Linked DNA regions of Homo sapiens. The protein of the gene in region 2 interacts with the protein of the main gene of each other region in a biochemical or structural test. Each region holds a gene or a part of one and is shown on either strand. Other genes may lie near its edges.

Region 1 (6,935 bases), on a different chromosome or scaffold from region 2:
TTTTACCCCAATGTGGATTCTTGCTCCAACCTAGTGATTCTCTACTCTGGCTGTGCATAAGAATCACCTGAAGAGCTTTTACAAAATACTGATGTCCAATTCTGCTCTGGGCAGCTGTTTTAATTGGTGTGGGGTGGGACCTGGGCATTGGTATTTCTTACGAGCTACCCACCTGGGTGATTCTAATATGCAGCCAGGATTGAGAAGCAATCTTCTAAGAGTGTGGTAGTGGTGCATAGGAAAGAGGCTGGCTTGCAGGAGAGCTTTACTTTTTGGTGGTTTAATGGTAACAAGCTTGCTGATGATGTTTACCATATAAGAGAGAGGGCCATATGTCCGGATTTGCCAGAAAACTAATTGATTTCTTTGCAAAACATGCTAACATTTAGTATTGACATGATGTATTCCTACCATCTCTCAGGACTGTAAGGAAATCTCAGGCAATCATCTATCTAATCTATTCCCCTGGATTAGATGAGGTTACAGAGTAAGAAATACTTATATGGATTAGCAAAACTTAAAGACATGTTTTTCTTTTTATTATTTTTTTTGAGACAGGGTCTTACTCTGTTGCCCAGACTGGAGTGCAATGGCGCAATCACAGCTTACTGCACCCTCAACCTCCCCAGGATCGGGTGATCTTTCCACCTCAGCCTCCCCACTAGCTAGGACTACAGGCATGAACCACCACGCCTGGCTAATTTTTGTATTTTTTTTGTAGAGATGGGTTTTCACTATGTTGGCCAGGCTGGTCTCAAACTCCTGGCTCAAGTGATCTGCCCACCTGGGCCTCTCGAAGTGCTGGGGTTACAGGTGTGAGCCACTGTGCCTGGCCTTAGAGACATTTTTAGAGGAAAGATAATGGACAACCAGAATGGCAGAAAGCCTGGGTTTCCCTTTTAGGGAAAAAGCAATTTCACTGTTCCAGAAGAAATCAGAGCCCCAGCCAGCCTGCCCTCCCACAGCCCCTTCTCTGAGGATTCCTGGCATGTGTCATCCTCCAGGGATGACTGCAGGATGGATGTGGCTGTTGGCGGCAGCAGCAGCTTTTCCTACCAGGGAAGCTGGGTCGGTAGACACTACACTGCTATTCCTGGGGTGGGGGTGGGGATTTCCGTGTATGTTTTATAGTTAGCTGGCCCCAAATCCGTGTGCTTTAGACCTAACCCTCTTCTCGGCTTCCACTGCCTTCTTCTCTCTCCTGCCCAGCCTGGAGTCGCAGGGGCAAGGCCTAGTTTTACAATGGCTGCCAGCCTTTCCCTTAGGGAGCCACATGCATGCGCTCACTTTTTCCAGTGGTCTTCTCAGTCTGATTTAATGGATATACCGGGACTGATGACACATCAGCATGGGATCCTTCTTTTGCTTCTTGGGTAACTGTCCTATTAACAGCTGTCCCAGGCAAAGGGAGGGGGAGAGTGTTGGGGGAAAGGAGGGGGTGGCTTCCTGGGTGAAGAAGGACACACCCTGGGTTTTACAAGGTTAATCAGCAGGTTCTGGGAAAGCTTGCACCTGCTCAGACTTGATCTGGAACTCTAGACAGAATGGAAGACAGTCTTTCTGTCTCCACTCCCTTCCATGGAGCATCAAATATCCTGGGCGCCCACACCCTGCCAGGCCTAGGCCTGCTGTTGCGACTGAGTTTGTCTCTACACCTTTACTCTCTTCGGCCCTTGCAACTCTTTCCCTTTTTCTGCCCACCTTTGTGAAATGGCTAAGCAGGAAACTCCACAGATAAACGATTGTCCAGTTTTAGTTTGAACTGTTAGGACTGAAAATTGTTCTGTATTTTTCTGTCAAAAAAAGACCAACTTTAGTATGCTCTTTTCACCTTCTCAAAATTGTCTTGTAGTTAAACACTGTAGTTGAGCCTTTATATCTCTCAATTTTATGTTTTGTTTTGTTGAGGAAGCATCTCACTGTTGCCCAGACTGGCACCATCATAGCTCACTGCAGCCTCAATCTCCCAGCTCAAGAAATCCTCCCACCTCAGCCTCCTGAGTAGTTGGGACTATAGATGTGTGGCACCAAGCCCAGCTTGTTTTTTTGTAGCGACGGGGGTCTCACTATGCTGCCCAGGCTGGTCAAGCAATCCTCCCGCCTCGGCCTCCCAAGGTGCTACTGTGAGCCACTGCGCCGGGCCCAGTTCTATGTTTAAAATACTTCCTTCTCAACCTTATTTATTTTTAGAGTTGATGGCCACACCTAAATATTCCTCCTTTCTTATACAATACCAGTCTTTATCTTCATTGTCTCACTACTTCGGGGACTGAATGGTCTCCTATTTTATTGTTAACATGCCATATCCTTCAAAACTGTACATCCTCCAAGGTGTGGTTAATTTCTGCTTTTAACAGGAAAATCAGAGGCCTGCCTGCTTGAGTCCCCCTTCAAGTACTCAGTATTTGAGTGTCTACTAAGTTATAACAGTTAACGCACAAAATTCTAGTCCTCATGTTGTTTATACTCAGGTATTTATTGGGAGACACGCGTCAGTAGTCCCTGATAAATGGAAAGATCGCTTGAGTCCAGGAGTTCCAGTCCAGCCTAGAATAGGTAAAACATGCTCTCTGAATTAGTCTTTGAAACTGGTAAACTAGCTCAGAAGTTTTTTTAAGAATTCCATGAGTGGTTTGCTGGTGTACGTTTATTATATGCAGTGAAAGTACTTAATCTGCAAACCACCCCAAATTAAGCCCCTAACTCGCAAGCACAAAATGGACTCGATTATTTACTGAGTTATCAGTTGGCCTTGTCCTTAGTTGTACAGGGACTAATGACTCACCTATAAATAATGGGCTCTTCTAAGAAGACACAGTTGAGTTGACACCTCTTTGTCCTATAGCTGGGAGGAACGCATTGCAAACGCCAACCCAATGATTCCCTAAATGGGGTCTTCGCATCAGCTGCGTTAAAATCACCCCAGCAGGCAGGTTATCCGGCCGCCACTCCAGGGTCATTAAATCAGACTCTCCAGTGGGACCTCGGAATTCGTAGCTTAGCAAGCTCCCCAAGTGATGCTGGGAGTAAACTAACGTTTGAGAGTCACAAACATGTTTTGGCAATATAACCAGATGGGACTGGAGAAATTAAAAAATGAGAAACATCCCTAAAAAAGCAAGACTAAGCTGCGTGGGAGGCCAAACGAGGGGGGTCCTTTGGGCTGTTTCTACCATGACAAAAATCGCCATTACCCCACACCTCTCACACCGCCAACGTTCCGCCAACGTTCCGCCAACGTCCCACCACCCTCATGATATCCGTCCGCGGTACTGCTCCAGCGAAGGTACCCTTGCCTGGGCCATGAGGCGCAACCGTCCCTCACAGCTGGGGTGGCTTCTCCAGGTTCGCACCGAGGGGAAGTTGGGGTACCGGTTTCCGCCGCCAGCACCCAAGATGGCGGCACGAGCGTCGCAACCACAAGAACCACATGCTTCGTGTCCCGCCTCAGCATTCTCGGGTCTCACTAGACTTTTGCAAGTCACTGTGGGAACCCTCAAGGCGAGGGTGTTCCGCACTCTGGCGGCGATACACCTTCCTATTCCCTGACCTAGGCCTTCATTCCCCCGCCACAGAAAGCGCTGGAAGCGCCCAACCTGGATACTTCACCCAACGCCCAAGCCCACTAACATCGCCCGCCGCGAAGGCGCGGCCGAGGGGCCCAGAATGCCAGACACTAGGGCCTTCGCCCTCCTCATTGGTGGGTCCATACCGCGGGGCGGGCCTAGGTACTCATTGGGCCGGGAATTATGTCAGTCTTGGGAAATCAGGTCCGGGGATGAGGAGGTACACTCAGCCATTGGGCCCTCTCTGCTGCCAATCAGAGGGACATCCGTCGACGGCCCCGGCCTCGGCTCGTTGATTGGAGAAACTGTTCCTAGGGTGTTTGCGGCGGGCGGGTTTCCGAGTGCGGTAGCAGGAGGGGGCGGGGAGGTAAGCGGAGGCTCCGAGCTCTAGGCCGGCCGGCGGTGGCGGCGGCGAGGCCGGGACTCGGGCTTAGGGCCTGCTGTGGAGGCAGCGGCGGACGCCGAGCTAAGCAGTGGGTATCGGGCACATTCCTTTCCCAGAAGGGAGGGTTGCAGCGCCGCGGGGCCGAGGCTTATGGGGCGACGGGATGGTGCTGAGGTGCAGGAGGCGGGGGCCGAGCGGGGTTCCCGCCAGAGCCCGGCCCTGGGCCTGACAGGGAGGGGCCCCGCGCGGGGCCGAGAGGAAAGCTGGCTCCGGGGTGGGATGGACTGGGCAGGGTTGAGGGCACGAGAAGGCGTGGTGTGAGGCCTGGACTTGGGAGTGGGGTGGGGCCATCGGGACGGAGGGCGGGGTGGGGTTTGCTGTAAGGGTGGGTCAAGGCCAGGGAAGTAGCACTTGTTCGCTGGCCGCCCCTGGAGGCTAGAAGCTCCGGCGCCGAGAGTGGGCATGGCGACTTGGTCTCAGCCGGACTCGGGTATCCGGGCAGGGTGGGACCAGCCTCAGGCTATGGGCCCTGCACCTACTTGATTTTTAAGGGACTTTGTCCGGTTCCTCGAACTTAATTGGCTCCTGGGAGGTTTTAGTAATAAATTGCGTGAGAACGGGAGGGTAGCGTAAGCAGGAATTCTGGGTCGCAATTGTGTTTACTCTGACCAGAGAGAGGGAGTGTGAGTGTGTGTGTGTGCGCACGTTCGTGTGTGTACGTATAGCTCGCTCTCCCCCTGTAGAATGAAGTTGGTAGATGGGTCACAACGCAGGAGAGGAGAGGCGGTATGTCTTGGTTTGTGACATTAATGGAAGCTCAAAAGTGGAGACCAGAAACAGATTTACTTCCTCTGCACTGGGCAGTCTGGCTAGAGAACGTGGCCATATCCTTCTGCTTTGGCTCAGAAGGTCATATGAATGAAAATAAAACCTGCCTATGCAAATTCTGGACGGAATAGTCCTGCGTAGTAGGGCCCCCACCATCCCTCTCCTTTTTTTCTTTCCTTTTCTTTTCTTTCTTTTTTTTCTTTTTTTGAGACGGAGTTTTGCTCTTGTTGCCCAGGCTGGAGTGCAGTGGCGCGATATCGGCCCACCACAACCTCCGTTTCCTGGGTTCAAGCGATTCTCCTGTCTCAGCCTCCCGAGTAGCTGGGATTACAGGCATGCGCCACCACGCCCGGCTAATTTTTGTATTTTTAGTTGAGATGGGGTTTCTCCATGTTGTTCAGGCTGGTCTCAAACTCCCGACCTCGGGTGATCCGCCCTCCTCGGCCTCCCGAAGTGCTGGGATTACAGGCGTCGGCCCTTTTCCTTTTTTTTCTTTTGTAAGTTGTGAGGATAGGAAAGGGAAATCAGATTTCAAAGTTCAGAAAACAAAAGGCATTCTTCTTCTGGGTGAAGTGGTGGCCTGAACATTGTCCTTTTGTCCTTCCACACTCTCACTGTTTAATAATCTTGCCTTTTTGAACTGAGAAAAGACAACTGTTATGGGTGGTTTTCTCCCGAGGGGTGAAAATCCAGCTTTACTTTTAAGACAGGAAATGGGCTTCTCATGTGAAAATAGAAGCTGGGTAATGCGCCTGTAGTGGGGGAGGAGGGCTGGTAAATAAAACAAAGGTGTAAGATATTTTGGATGACCTGGTTATTGTCTGCTTATTCAAACCAAGCTACATTTTAGGATATTGCACATTTAATATTCAGTAACTGAGATCATTCGTGATCAGTAGCTTTCTTTGATAGTTCTTCTATGATCGGTTGCTATATTTTGGGTTTTTTTTCTGAGAGTGTAAGTAGTCCTTTCTTCCTGTAAAAGTGGCCTTTAGGCCAGGCACAGTGGCTCACGCCTGTGATCCCAGCACTTTGGGGGGCCGAGGCGGGCAGATCACCTGAGGTCAGGAGCTTGAGACCAGCCTGGCCAACATAGTGAAACCCCATCTCTACTAAAAATACAAAAATTAGCAGGGCGTGGTGGCAGGCGCCTGTAATCCCAGATACTTGGGAGGCTGAGGCAGGAGAATCGCTTGAATGCAGAAGGTGGAGGTTGCAGTGAGCACAGATCACGCCACTGCACTCTAGCCTGGGCGACAGAGTGAGACTCTGTCTCAAAAAAAAAAAAAGTGAAAGTGTCCTTTGAATGTGTTTTCTACCTTCTACTGTGAAGGTTTTCCTACCCTGATCATGATGTGAAAAGTATGGAATCTTATCCTGTTGCTTTTGTGATTCCCATTTCAGGTTTCTCTGGAAACCCCCCTGGTAAGTGTGGAGGAGGCGGGACACTCTGACCCAAGACGAAAGGCCTGTAGCTCCAGCCAAAGAAAATAAACCTTAGGAGGGAGAAGGAAAAAAAAAATCCATCAGCTGTTCCTGAGAACAGCCTGCATTGGAATCTACAGAGAGGACAACTAATGTGAGTGAGGAAGTGACTGTATGTGGACTGTGGAGAAAGTAAGTCACGTGGGCCCTTGAGGACCTGGACTGGGTTAGGAACAGTTGTACTTTCAGAGGTGAGGTGTCGAGAAGGGAAAGTGAATGTGGTCTGGAGTGTGTCCTTGGCCTTGGCTCCACAGGGTGTGCTTTCCTCTGGGGCCGTCAGGGAGCTCATCCCTTGTGTTCTGCCAGGGTGGGGTACGGGGTTTGACACTGAGGAGGGTAACCTGCTGGCTGGAGCGGCAGAGCAGTGGCCTTGATTTGTCTTTTGGAAGATTTTAAAAACCAAAAAGCATAAACATTCTGGTCCTTCAGCAATGCTTTCTCTGAAGAAATACTTAACGGAAGGACTTCTCCAGTTCACCATTCTGCTGAGTTTGATTGGGGTACGGGTGGACGTGGATACTTACCTGACCTCACAGCTTCCCCCACTCCGGGAGATCATCCTGGGGCCCAGTTCTGCCTATACTCAGACCCAGTTCCACAACCTGAGGAATACCTTGGATGGCTATGGTATCCACCCCAAGAGCATAGACCTGGACAATTACTTCACTGCC
Region 2 (7,033 bases):
GAGCAGAATTCAGCCGCATAGCTAATTTTTGCTAAGGGCACACATTAGGAACGTAAGAATATTACCTGCTCAACATTGCTCATATCAAGCCAGTCTTGATCTTCTAGCTCTACTGCCATTTCTTCCAAATACACACAACGGCTAGGGATGCCATTCCCGCTTTTCAAGCTGGGATCACCTGGGAAATGGTTTTAATATGATAGGTTAAGGATAATGCTTCTGTTTTATACAGACAACTGATCTTGACAGCATCACTCTTGAACTGCAAATCTGACTCAAGTAATACCAGAATGATCCTGATACACAAAGCAACATCTAAAGATTCAAATCTTTTTTTTTCCCCCTCTAGTCACAGAGAATGGGATTTGTTATAAACCTAGCATCATGACATTTAAAGAGTAAATCCCAGACATTAGTACCAACCTTGGGGTTTAAACACAGACAGGGCACAGAGGGCAAACACTCTCTGATGCCTCTGAAGGCTTCCATCTGAATATTTAGGTTACCTCTGAGAAGAAAATGGGTTTGGCTACCCTTCCCATTTCCTTTTTAAGGTAGTAAAGGCAAGTAGCTATATAGTGCAGTCAGTATTGAAATGGGAACAAAAGTTAGATCTGCATCTAAATACTGTTTTTAGGTCATACCAAAAGGTTCACTGAAATATAAACCCTGAGTTCCAGGGAGTGCAGTGAGTAGGTTTGTATCTAACCATTAGCTGTAACCAGTTTCAAAGAGCAAGCCCCTAGCCCAAGCTCAAATAGGAAGGGTAGAATAATGCTATAAGTTTGTAACTCACTGTTGTCCAGAGTAATAAGGAAGATCCTTTGGATCATGTGATTGATGTTGAGTTGCTCACATATTTCCTGCTGTGATCGGAATGAGCGGCTAATCTCAGCCACAGAGTAATCGAATTCATCCAGGCTCTCTGACACGCTATTATCCGAGTCATCTGGGCTAGCTGGGAGTTCATCTGCCAGAAAATGTATACTGTTAAATGTTACACCCCTTTAAGAGAGAACCAAGCATGCTACCAAAAATAATAAATGTAACCAAGAAGATGATAATTTCAGATGTAAAACAAGCTAATCATCTAATTAGTGAACATCTCAAGTCAGGGAAGTTAAATATAGGGTTTTGAAATTCCTGGCTATAAATCCTACCACATTTTACAAAGCAAAAGTTTTATTTCTATCCATAATTATACTCCACACTGCCAGAAATAGCAAAGTTATCTTCTCTACAGAATCCTAGTGAACAAAGAATTACCTAATAGATCAAAATGCCTTTAATTATTTTAAATGTATGGCTTTTCTCCCTGATTTTAAGAGATAACATTTGTTTTAATAGTTCTTAACTGTACAGAAAAATATAGTATAGAAAGTCTCCTGAACCAATTCCCTAAAGACACTTAACAGTGTTCAAGAATTTTTTTCTTTTCTGGTGCTAATATTCATTACTATCTTTTTAATTTTTTTAAAAAATGGGATACTATACATAGCTCTTTTCAGCTTGCCTTTTAATCAGCACCAACACCTTTCCCTGTTAGGCCATTTAGAGGCCTACCTCACTATTTTTAATAGCTGTATTGTATCACATCTTTTGCATGCCCTGTGGTTTATGTAGCTACTTTTCAACTGATGAACAATAGGGTTGTTTCTAATATTTCATGATTTTAAATACTGCACTGAATACAATACAACTTAACTCTTTTTGTTTACTTGTATGAGTATTTCTATAGGATAAATTCACAGTAGCAGAACTGCTGGATCAAAGAGCTTGAACATTTAAAAAGTTAACATTTACTGCCTGGCACGGTGGCTCACACCTGTAATCCCAGCACTTTGGGAGGCTGAGGCAGGCGGATCACGAGGTCAGGAGATTGAGACCATCCTGGCTAACATGGTGAAACCCCATCCCTACTAATACAAAAAATTAGCCAGGCGTGGTGGCACACACCTGTAGTCCCAGCTACTCGGGAGGCTGAGGCAGGAGAATTGCTTAAACCCGGGAGGCAGAGGTTGCACTGCACTCCAGCCTCGGTGACAGAGCAAGACTTCGTCTCAAAAAAAAAAAAAAAAAAAAGTTAACATTTACTACCAAGTTACCCTCAAAGAGACTGTCTGATTTACATGCAAACCCAACAGTATATGAGAGAGTGCCTGTTTGAATCTTCACAAATTTCATAGGTAAAAAAACAATTTAATGGTTGTTTTAATTGGCACTTCTCTAATGATTGATGAGAATAAATTTTTTAATCATTTGGTTATAAGTTGCATGTCACATCTTTTGTACCTTTTTATTCTTTCTTGTTATTTTTTTCTTATTGATGAAATTCCTTCGATTTTTTTTTTTTTAAACTTCTGTCCTCAAAATCTGCTCCCATCCTTTGATTTTTTTTTTTGAGATGGACTCTCACTCTGTCGCCCAGGCTGGAGTGCAGTGGTGTGATCTCGGCTCACCGCAACCTCTACCTCCCAGGTTCAAGTGATTCTCCTGCCTCAGCCAAGTAGCTGGGACTACAGGCGCCCACCACCACGCCCGGCTAATTTTTGTATTTTTAGTAGAGATGGGGTTTCACCATGTTGGCCAGGCTGGTCTCAAACTCCTGACCTCAGGTGATCCGCCCACCTTGGCCTCCCAGAGTGCTGGGATTATAGGCGCCTGTCATCATGCCCGACTAATTTTTGTGTTTTTAGTAGAGACGGGGTTTTGTCATGTTGGCCAGGCTGGTCTCGAACTCCTGACCTCCGGTGATCTGCCCACCTAGGCCTCCCAAGGAGCTGGGATTACAGGCGCGAGCCACTGCGCCCAGCCCCATCATTCATGTTGAATGACTACATAAAAGTAGTGTTATTCACTATATGCCACATATGAGTCTATATGTACTTTTCTCTATTGACAGAATGGCTAGTCTGAAAGTCCAGGTAAAACTCTCAAAGTAAGAGTTGTTTCAGTGTGGTGAGTATAAGCTCAACATAGGAAGCCAAAGGTTTTGGCAAAGTACTAATTGCTAGTGGAAACAGGTTGGACCTGGTGGCATGATAAACTCAGTGTAAACAAACTAGGATGATGAGGTGCCAAAATAGTAACAGAAGGGCATGTGCCTGCAATGCTCCCAACTCTAGCCAGATTTATGTCTGTTTATAGCCAGAAGGACAAGCGTTCTGTTGCTCAGCTGCTATACTGTTGAGTTTTTCTCTGACCTCCAATGGTGACAGAAGCTAAGAATCTGTTTAGCAAAATTTCCCTCAACCACATACTCATAAATCATACTTTCTCATTCCTTATTTTTCCTATTTTTCACTCTGCTTTTTCCCCTACAATCTTCTAAACCAGAGTTTCCCATTCTGGCCCCGTATCATAGAAATCTGGGAGAGATTTCAGAGACTGAAAATACCATGTTAAAAAAAATCAACATTGATTTTGTTTTTCCCTTGCATCAATCACTTATCTGTCTTGCCTTTACCTCTTTTTTCTTCAGCCCTTTCTAACTGAAAGGCCAAAAGTCAGCTATGCACCTGAGTGTTTTTTTTTTTTTTAAATAAACAAAATAAAGGGAAAATGCAAACACTTCTCCTTCTCTCAAAAGAAAAACACTATTATTCTTTTCGGAGAGAGGAGAAGGGGAGCAATTTCTGGTTTGAAAGATTGTGAATATCTTCAGAAGACTAACATATTTGAGAAAAATCCTAATTCTTCTAGTGTATATGTCTCCTTATAGGAGGAAGCTGGACTTGATCTTAAATTCGGTGCCTGAAAGAAAACCATTTTTTCTGATTACTGAGATGTTATTCTGATGTTTTTCATAGTAAGGCTAAGGATCAGATTTTTTAAAAAAGTCTGTCCTAACAGGACTAAGCTACAAATGATGCCACTCATCGGAACAGAAGAAGCACTTTGCTTGGGAGGGCCTTTGAAGTGCTGAGCTTAAGAACAAGTCTCATTTGCCTACAGGTCAAAAAGCTTTTATAGTTCTTCCTTTTACATCTGCTTTCTATAGCTGCACATGACTTGCTTTCTACACCTACACTTACCACCTCTGTGTCCCATGTTAAAAACATTTATTTAAATAGCTTTTACTAGGTGATTTTTTTTTTCTTTTAAAGAAAACAGCCTGACAGCTTTGGGATCACGACTGGCATCTGTTACTATGGAACCACCTGTTACCTGGTCTCTTTTTGTACAGTGGAGAGGACAGCGGAGGGGAGGGACTCACAACAAAACCAACAATAAAAGCAAACAAACAAAAAACCCCAATTTCTGCTCTCAACAAACAAACAAAAACCAACTTTTGTTCCAAACTTAAATTCCAATTGCAATTAAGGACTCAAAGAATACTTAATTTGGGAAGACCCCATTCTAGGTCATCTTATTTGCTGCTATTGGCTCCTCCACTTACCAGATTGTTGCTTCAGCTGCTCTTTTTGGATTGCCGCAAACTGTTTGGCATCAGCCAGGGAGCCAAAAAGAGCAGCAAAGGGGTTACTTGAGATGTTGTTGTTATTCTCCTGGTCTGTCATTTCACTTTAAGGTATCCTCCATCCAGACCTAGTGGGAGAGGCTGTTCAAAGGACAGGTATTAGACACAAGAGGGCAGATGACACAATAGCTGTAATATACCTGTGGTTGTTTCTTTTCCCATTTCTCAAATACAATACATTTTAAAATACTTTGGGTTAAGATTTTCCAATTCCTGTCCCCAAACTCAAGACATTTTTGGCAAAATGGTTACAAACCTACCAGCTGGACTCGGTGGCTTGATTTGTGGATAGCTGAAACTAAAAAGGCTAAAACGTTCAGCTGGAATGCATTAATCTGTTGATATACTTTTATTTGCAATACCTTTAAGAAAACAGGTTAAGTAGAAAGAATTATTGAAGTCAAAGAGAGAACTCACCTACTAATTGTAATAACAATGTGGCACTGAAAAATAATAAGACAAGAATTATGGATTTCCCAAGAATTAAGCTGGCAGTCTAGTTCTCATTCACTGGGGTGAGGACAAGGGACTTCTATGACTTAGGGCTGGGGATGGATATTTCTCAGCTACATATAAATTAAGTAAAAGCCCATATCTTAGATTTGGACTCTGGCAAATCAGGACTGGAAGCAGTTCAGCTGTATGTTGTGGGTTTTTAACATAGATTAAGCAATCTATTTATTTCTAGGCTTAAAAATACTGATATTTCTTCCACTAAAAATTAAATGGTCTTTGCTTCATGCTATATCTAACCTTCACTGTTTACCTGATTTCTTAAAATAATACTGAAGAAACACGAATTCCAACGGTCAGGTCTACTGTGTAATATGAAATATAGATACCTCAAAGGTGTTTAGTAGAGCTGGCTGAGCCTGCATTCACACTCTTCTGATTACATTTCCTCATTCAAGACCAAGTGAACTCAGTGGCACAACAGAATAAACAGGGCTCCCTGAAAGGCTTTCTCCCCTTTCTGAAATTTTAAGGCCATGACATAGAAATATTAAATACAACACTGAAAAGGGTGGGAAGAGACAAAGGGTATGAATGTTTTGTTCATAAGGATCTTGAACTGCTATAAGGACAGAGACCTTAGAAATAGCGGGAGTAGGGGTATAAAGGAAGAAAAAAAGAACATTTGGTCTACCTTTGGTTTATTGAGGCAAGACTCCTCACAGGATCATATCAACAAAAGCTAATGTGGGCCAGGTGCAGTGGCTCATGCCTGCAATCCCAGCACCCTGGGAGGCTGAGGCAGGTGGATCACCTGAGGTCAGGAGTTCAAGACCAGCCTGGCCAACATGGTGAAACCCCATCTCTACTAAAACACGAAAATTAGCCAGGCATGGCGGCAGGTGCCTGTAATCCCAGCTACTTGGGAGGCAGGAGGCTGAGGCAGGAGAATTGCTTGGACTCGGGAGGCAGAGGTTGCAGAGAGCTGAGATTGTGCCACTGCACTTCAACCTGGGTGACAGAGCGAGACTTCGTCTCAAAAAAAAAAAAAAAAAAAAAAAGCTAATGTGGTCGAAAAAGTTACCCTTATTTACCAGAGAAAGAGATTATTTATAACATTTCTTGACAATTCTGAGGCATCTTCAGCACTTGCTTCATGCTCCTCTGCCATTTTTTCCACACAAGAGCTAACGGCTAATTAGCTGTAATGACTTAGGCAGTCTAGTCTCCTCTCAGTGCAGCTCAAAGCTTTACTGCTTCAAGGAATTGAACTGTTATTTGGATTTTTAGTAGAGACGGGGTATCACCATGTTGGCCAGGCTGGTCTCGAACTCCTGACCTCAAGTGATCCTCCCACCGCGGCCTCCCAAAGTGCTGGAATTATAGGCATGAGTCACTGCGCCTGGCCTTCTGTATTTTATTTTTTGCTATGTATATTTCAGTAAGCTTAATAATGCAAAAAAAGGGAAAGATACCATATTTAGTATTGAAATTAATGAGAGGGATTTTCCCCATGTAATTACCGCACAAGTTTAATTATTACCTGTAGTTAATGTAAAAACACCAAGAATTGTCTTATTGTTAGCTGACCACCATTCTACTTCCATCCTAAAATACCACAAATTCCAGAGGAATGCAAAAAGTATATTGAGCTCTTGTTATTTCTCTCTCTAAAACATCACATTCATTTTTTTCCTTTGGGTATCCACTCCACTCAATCCAGAAGAGGCTGACCAGTTCAGAAGGGGTTGACCTCACCCACTAGCCCCAGGAATGAACATACAAGTCTGGCCAGGCTAAAAAGAATACAGCATTTTCCAGCCAAAGCAACTGATCCAGGAGTGGGCACAAGACACTATGGAGGCCTAACAGAGTCAATGAATACCAGCTTCAGGACTTCAGCTGAATCTACGGAAAAGTGAGTTTTCTCCTGATTGAGTTGATAAGCCAGTAAGATAGAGTTGCCATCTTTACACCATTTAGAAAAGGCCTAGCCTAAAACCAAGCCAACATACACTAGAAAACAGAATTGAGAGATGGAAAGATAAGTCTGGACTTTTCAGTTATAAAAACCAATAAAATTTCCCTAAATGCCTAAAC
Region 3 (3,996 bases), on a different chromosome or scaffold from region 2:
GCTGGTATTTTGTTATTTTCAAGTTAACCAATCATTGTTTATACCCATTTCATTTCTTAACAATATAAGCTTTCTTAATAGAGCATAAGGGAAAAGGTGATAAGGAAAACATTTAGTTTCTGGGTCCAAGGTAGAGAGGAAAATTCAAACAATTTATTTTTGGAGTGGAAATTATTATGATTGTCTAGTGATTTTGACCAGCATCCCTCAACAAACTCACTGGTCTCCACATATTTGGAAAACACATCGTTGAACCAAAATTTGCTTTTACCAATTGAATAACATTTTGCTTCAATAAGTATTACTTGAGCTCCTATGAAACACTCAGTGTAGGTCGTAAGGAGTGTGAAGAAATCGTTTCTGCCTACAGAGTAGAATAGGACAGACTAAAACAAATGAAAATGGATGGAATAAGATTAAAACAAAGAGCCTTCGCAGGTCATGGAAGACTCTTCTTGATCTGGCACCTGCCATGGAAGACTCCTCTTGATCTGGCACCTGCCTGCCTCAGCAGCACCTTTCTTTTCATCCTCTCTCCGTTTCTCAAAACAAGCCTTTATTAATATTTACATATATGCATGCATGCACGGATGCATGCACATCATTACTATTCCAGAAACACCGTCTACCTCCATTTCCCCAGTACATCATGCTATATCACACTTCTGTGCTTTTATGATACCATTCCCTCCAATTTAAAATCTCAACACATAATTCAGATGTTAGCATTTGGGGCAAGCCTCTCCTGATTACCCCTTCCCCCAGTGGAACTACATCTGCCCATGCGGGGCGCATATCATTCTGTTTATTGTGCGCTTAGGTGTCTACTGTACTTAGCCCAGCCTCTTCCACCAGACCATGAGCTGGTTGAGTAGAGAGATGGGGTCCAAGGGGTTCAATATCAGCCACAGATTTCAAAAGATACCTGTCGACATGACTGGAATATCAAAAGCTATTTGGGATTAATAGTCTAGATTGAGTTTTACAGGATTCATCACATGGAAATATACCAGTTTCTGTTATGAATTTTCTAGATGCGCTTTCTGAACTGTAGAAAGGGACGGAAGGACCCTTCCAAGTCCATCCTGGATGTTGGTGTAGAAGAAGCTATAAAATTCAGTGGATTTGATGAAAAGATGTTTCTGAAGCGAGGAGGAAAATACATATGGAGTAAGGCTGATCTGAAGCTGGATTGGTAGAGCGGAAAGTGGAACGAGACTTCAACACACCAGTGGGAAAACTCCTAGAGTAACTGCCATTGTCTGCAATACTATCCCGTTGGTATTTCCCAGTGGCTGAAAACCTGATTTTCTGCTGCACGTGGCATCTGATTACCTGTGGTCACTGAACACACGAATAACTTGGATAGCAAATCCTGAGACAATGGAAAACCATTAACTTTACTTCATTGGCTTATAACCTTGTTGTTATTGAAACAGCACTTCTGTTTTTGAGTTTGTTTTAGCTAAAAAGAAGGAATACACACAGGAATAATGACCCCAAAAATGCTTAGATAAGGCCCCTATACACAGGACCTGACATTTAGCTCAATGATGCGTTTGTAAGAAATAAGCTCTAGTGATATCTGTGGGGGCAAAATTTAATTTGGATTTGATTTTTTAAAACAATGTTTACTGCGATTTCTATATTTCCATTTTGAAACTATTTCTTGTTCCAGGTTTGTTCATTTGACAGAGTCAGTATTTTTTGCCAAATATCCAGATAACCAGTTTTCACATCTGAGACATTACAAAGTATCTGCCTCAATTATTTCTGCTGGTTATAATGCTTTTTTTTTTTTGCCTTTATGCCATTGCAGTCTTGTACTTTTTACTGTGATGTACAGAAATAGTCAACAGATGTTTCCAAGAACATATGATATGATAATCCTACCAATTTTCAAGAAGTCTCTAGAAAGAGATAACACATGGAAAGACGGTGTGGTGCAGCCCAGCCCACGGTGGCTGTTCCATGAATGCTGGCTACCTATGTGTGTGGTACCTGTTGTGTCCCTTTCTCTTCAAAGATCCTGAGCAAAACAAAGATACGCTTTCCATTTGATGATGGAGTTGACATGGAGGCAGTGCTTGCATTGCTTTGTTCGCCTATCATCTGGCCACATGAGGCTGTCAAGCAAAAGAATAGGAGTGTAGTTGAGTAGCTGGTTGGCCCTACATCTCTGAGAAGTGACGGCACACTGGGTTGGCATAAGATATCCTAAAATCACGCTGGAACCTTGGGCAAGGAAGAATGTGAGCAAGAGTAGAGAGAGTGCCTGGATTTCATGTCAGTGAAGCCAAGTCACCATATCATATTTTTGAATGAACTCTGAGTCAGTTGAAATAGGGTACCATCTAGGTCAGTTTAAGAAGAGTCAGCTCAGAGAAAGCAAGCATAAGGGAAAATGTCACGTAAACTAGATCAGGGAACAAAATCCTCTCCTTGTGGAAATATCCCATGCAGTTTGTTGATACAACTTAGTATCTTATTGCCTAAAAAAAAATTTCTTATCATTGTTTCAAAAAAGCAAAATCATGGAAAATTTTTGTTGTCCAGGCAAATAAAAGGTCATTTTAATTTAGCTGCAATTTCAGTGTTCCTCACTAGGTGGCATTTAAATGTCGCCTGATGTCATTAAGCACCATCCAAAAAGTCTGCTTCATAATCTATTTTCAAGACTTGGTGATTCTGAAAGTTTTGGTTTTTGTGACTTTGTTTCTCAGGAAAAAAAATATTCCTACTTAAATTTTAAGTCTATAATTCAATTTAAATATGTGTGTGTCTCATCCAGGATAGGATAGGTTGTCTTCTATTTTCCATTTTACCTATTTACTTTTTTTGTAAGAAAAGAGAAAAATGAATTCTAAAGATGTTCCCCATGGGTTTTGATTGTGTCTAAGCTATGATGACCTTCATATAATCAGCATAAACATAAAACAAATTTTTTACTTAACATGAGTGCACTTTACTAATCCTCATGGCACAGTGGCTCACGCCTGTAATCCCAGCACTTGGGAGGACAATGTGGGTGGATCACGAGGTCAGGAGTTCGAGAACAGCCTGGCCAACATGGTGAAACCCCGTCTCCACTAAAAATACAAAAATTAGCCAGGCATGGTGGCGTACACTTGTAATTCCAGCTACTCAAGAGGCTGAGGCAGGAGGATTGCTTGAACCCTGAAGGCAGAGGTTACAGAGCCAAGATAGCGCCACTGCACTCCAGCCTGGATGACAGAGCAAGACTCCGTCTCAAAAAAAAAAAAAAAAAAAAGCAAGAGAGTTCAACTAAGAAAGGTCACATATGTGAAAGCCCAAGGACACTGTTTGATATACAGCAGGTATTCAATCAGTGTTATTTGAAACCAAATCTGAATTTGAAGTTTGAATCTTCTGAGTTGGAATGAATTTTTTTCTAGCTGAGGGAAACTGTATTTTTCTTTCCCCAAAGAGGAATGTAATGTAAAGTGAAATAAAACTATAAGCTATGTTAAATACATTTTCAGCTGTTTTATCCACCATTATTCACAGGCCACGCCCACACCACCCCCACCCCCACCACCACCACCTAATGCACTGTCAGGATTTGCAAGGCCTTAATGTTTAAAATATTCAAATGTTAATTTCTCTTAAAGGGGAGAAATAAGGACTTCTAACATTAGAGTAAATTCAAATTCAGCCTATATAGTGTTTTGCTTTATGTTTTCAGTTTTAAATGTGAGTGTTAGTTTTGTAAAACACATTTAATTGGGAAAGCAAGGAACAATTTCACGGAGGTATCTTATGTGTTAAGGGAAGATATTTTATGTTGCATTTAATTCTTTCTTTTTTTAATCCAAAATTTTATTTGACCATGTTTGTCTAGAAGTGACAATATTGTTTCTTACGTTAACTAGAACTGGAGCCTGGAGATAGAAAATAAGTCTAGTTACATAAAAATTTTAAATTTATGCACATTTGAATTTATCAATTATGAATATATACACTCTACACAATGAA

The links. Proteins that work in one complex are often made in the same cells at the same time.
Region 1: of the proteins of UBE4A (region 2) and NFE2L1, one has a biochemical effect on the other in vitro, tested with the Homo sapiens proteins (one study listed by BioGRID).
Region 3: the proteins of UBE4A (region 2) and RSAD2 form a complex in vitro, tested with the Homo sapiens proteins (one study listed by BioGRID).

Annotation. Positions count from the first base shown.
Region 1 is NC_000017.11:48,044,424-48,051,358, forward strand, and holds the start of NFE2L1 (endoplasmic reticulum membrane sensor NFE2L1), read left to right. Parts: upstream 1-3,935; 5' UTR 3,936-4,039; intron 4,040-4,357; exon of another isoform or gene 4,358-4,441; intron 4,442-6,183; 5' UTR 6,184-6,695; coding exon 6,696-6,935.
Region 2 is NC_000011.10:118,362,568-118,369,600, reverse strand, and holds part of UBE4A (ubiquitin conjugation factor E4 A), read right to left. Parts: intron 4,562-7,033; 5' UTR 4,521-4,561; coding exon 4,400-4,520; intron 971-4,399; coding exon 797-970; intron 179-796; coding exon 66-178; intron 1-65.
Region 3 is NC_000002.12:6,894,744-6,898,739, forward strand, and holds the end of RSAD2 (S-adenosylmethionine-dependent nucleotide dehydratase RSAD2), read left to right. Parts: intron 1-1,034; coding exon 1,035-1,199; 3' UTR 1,200-3,496; downstream 3,497-3,996.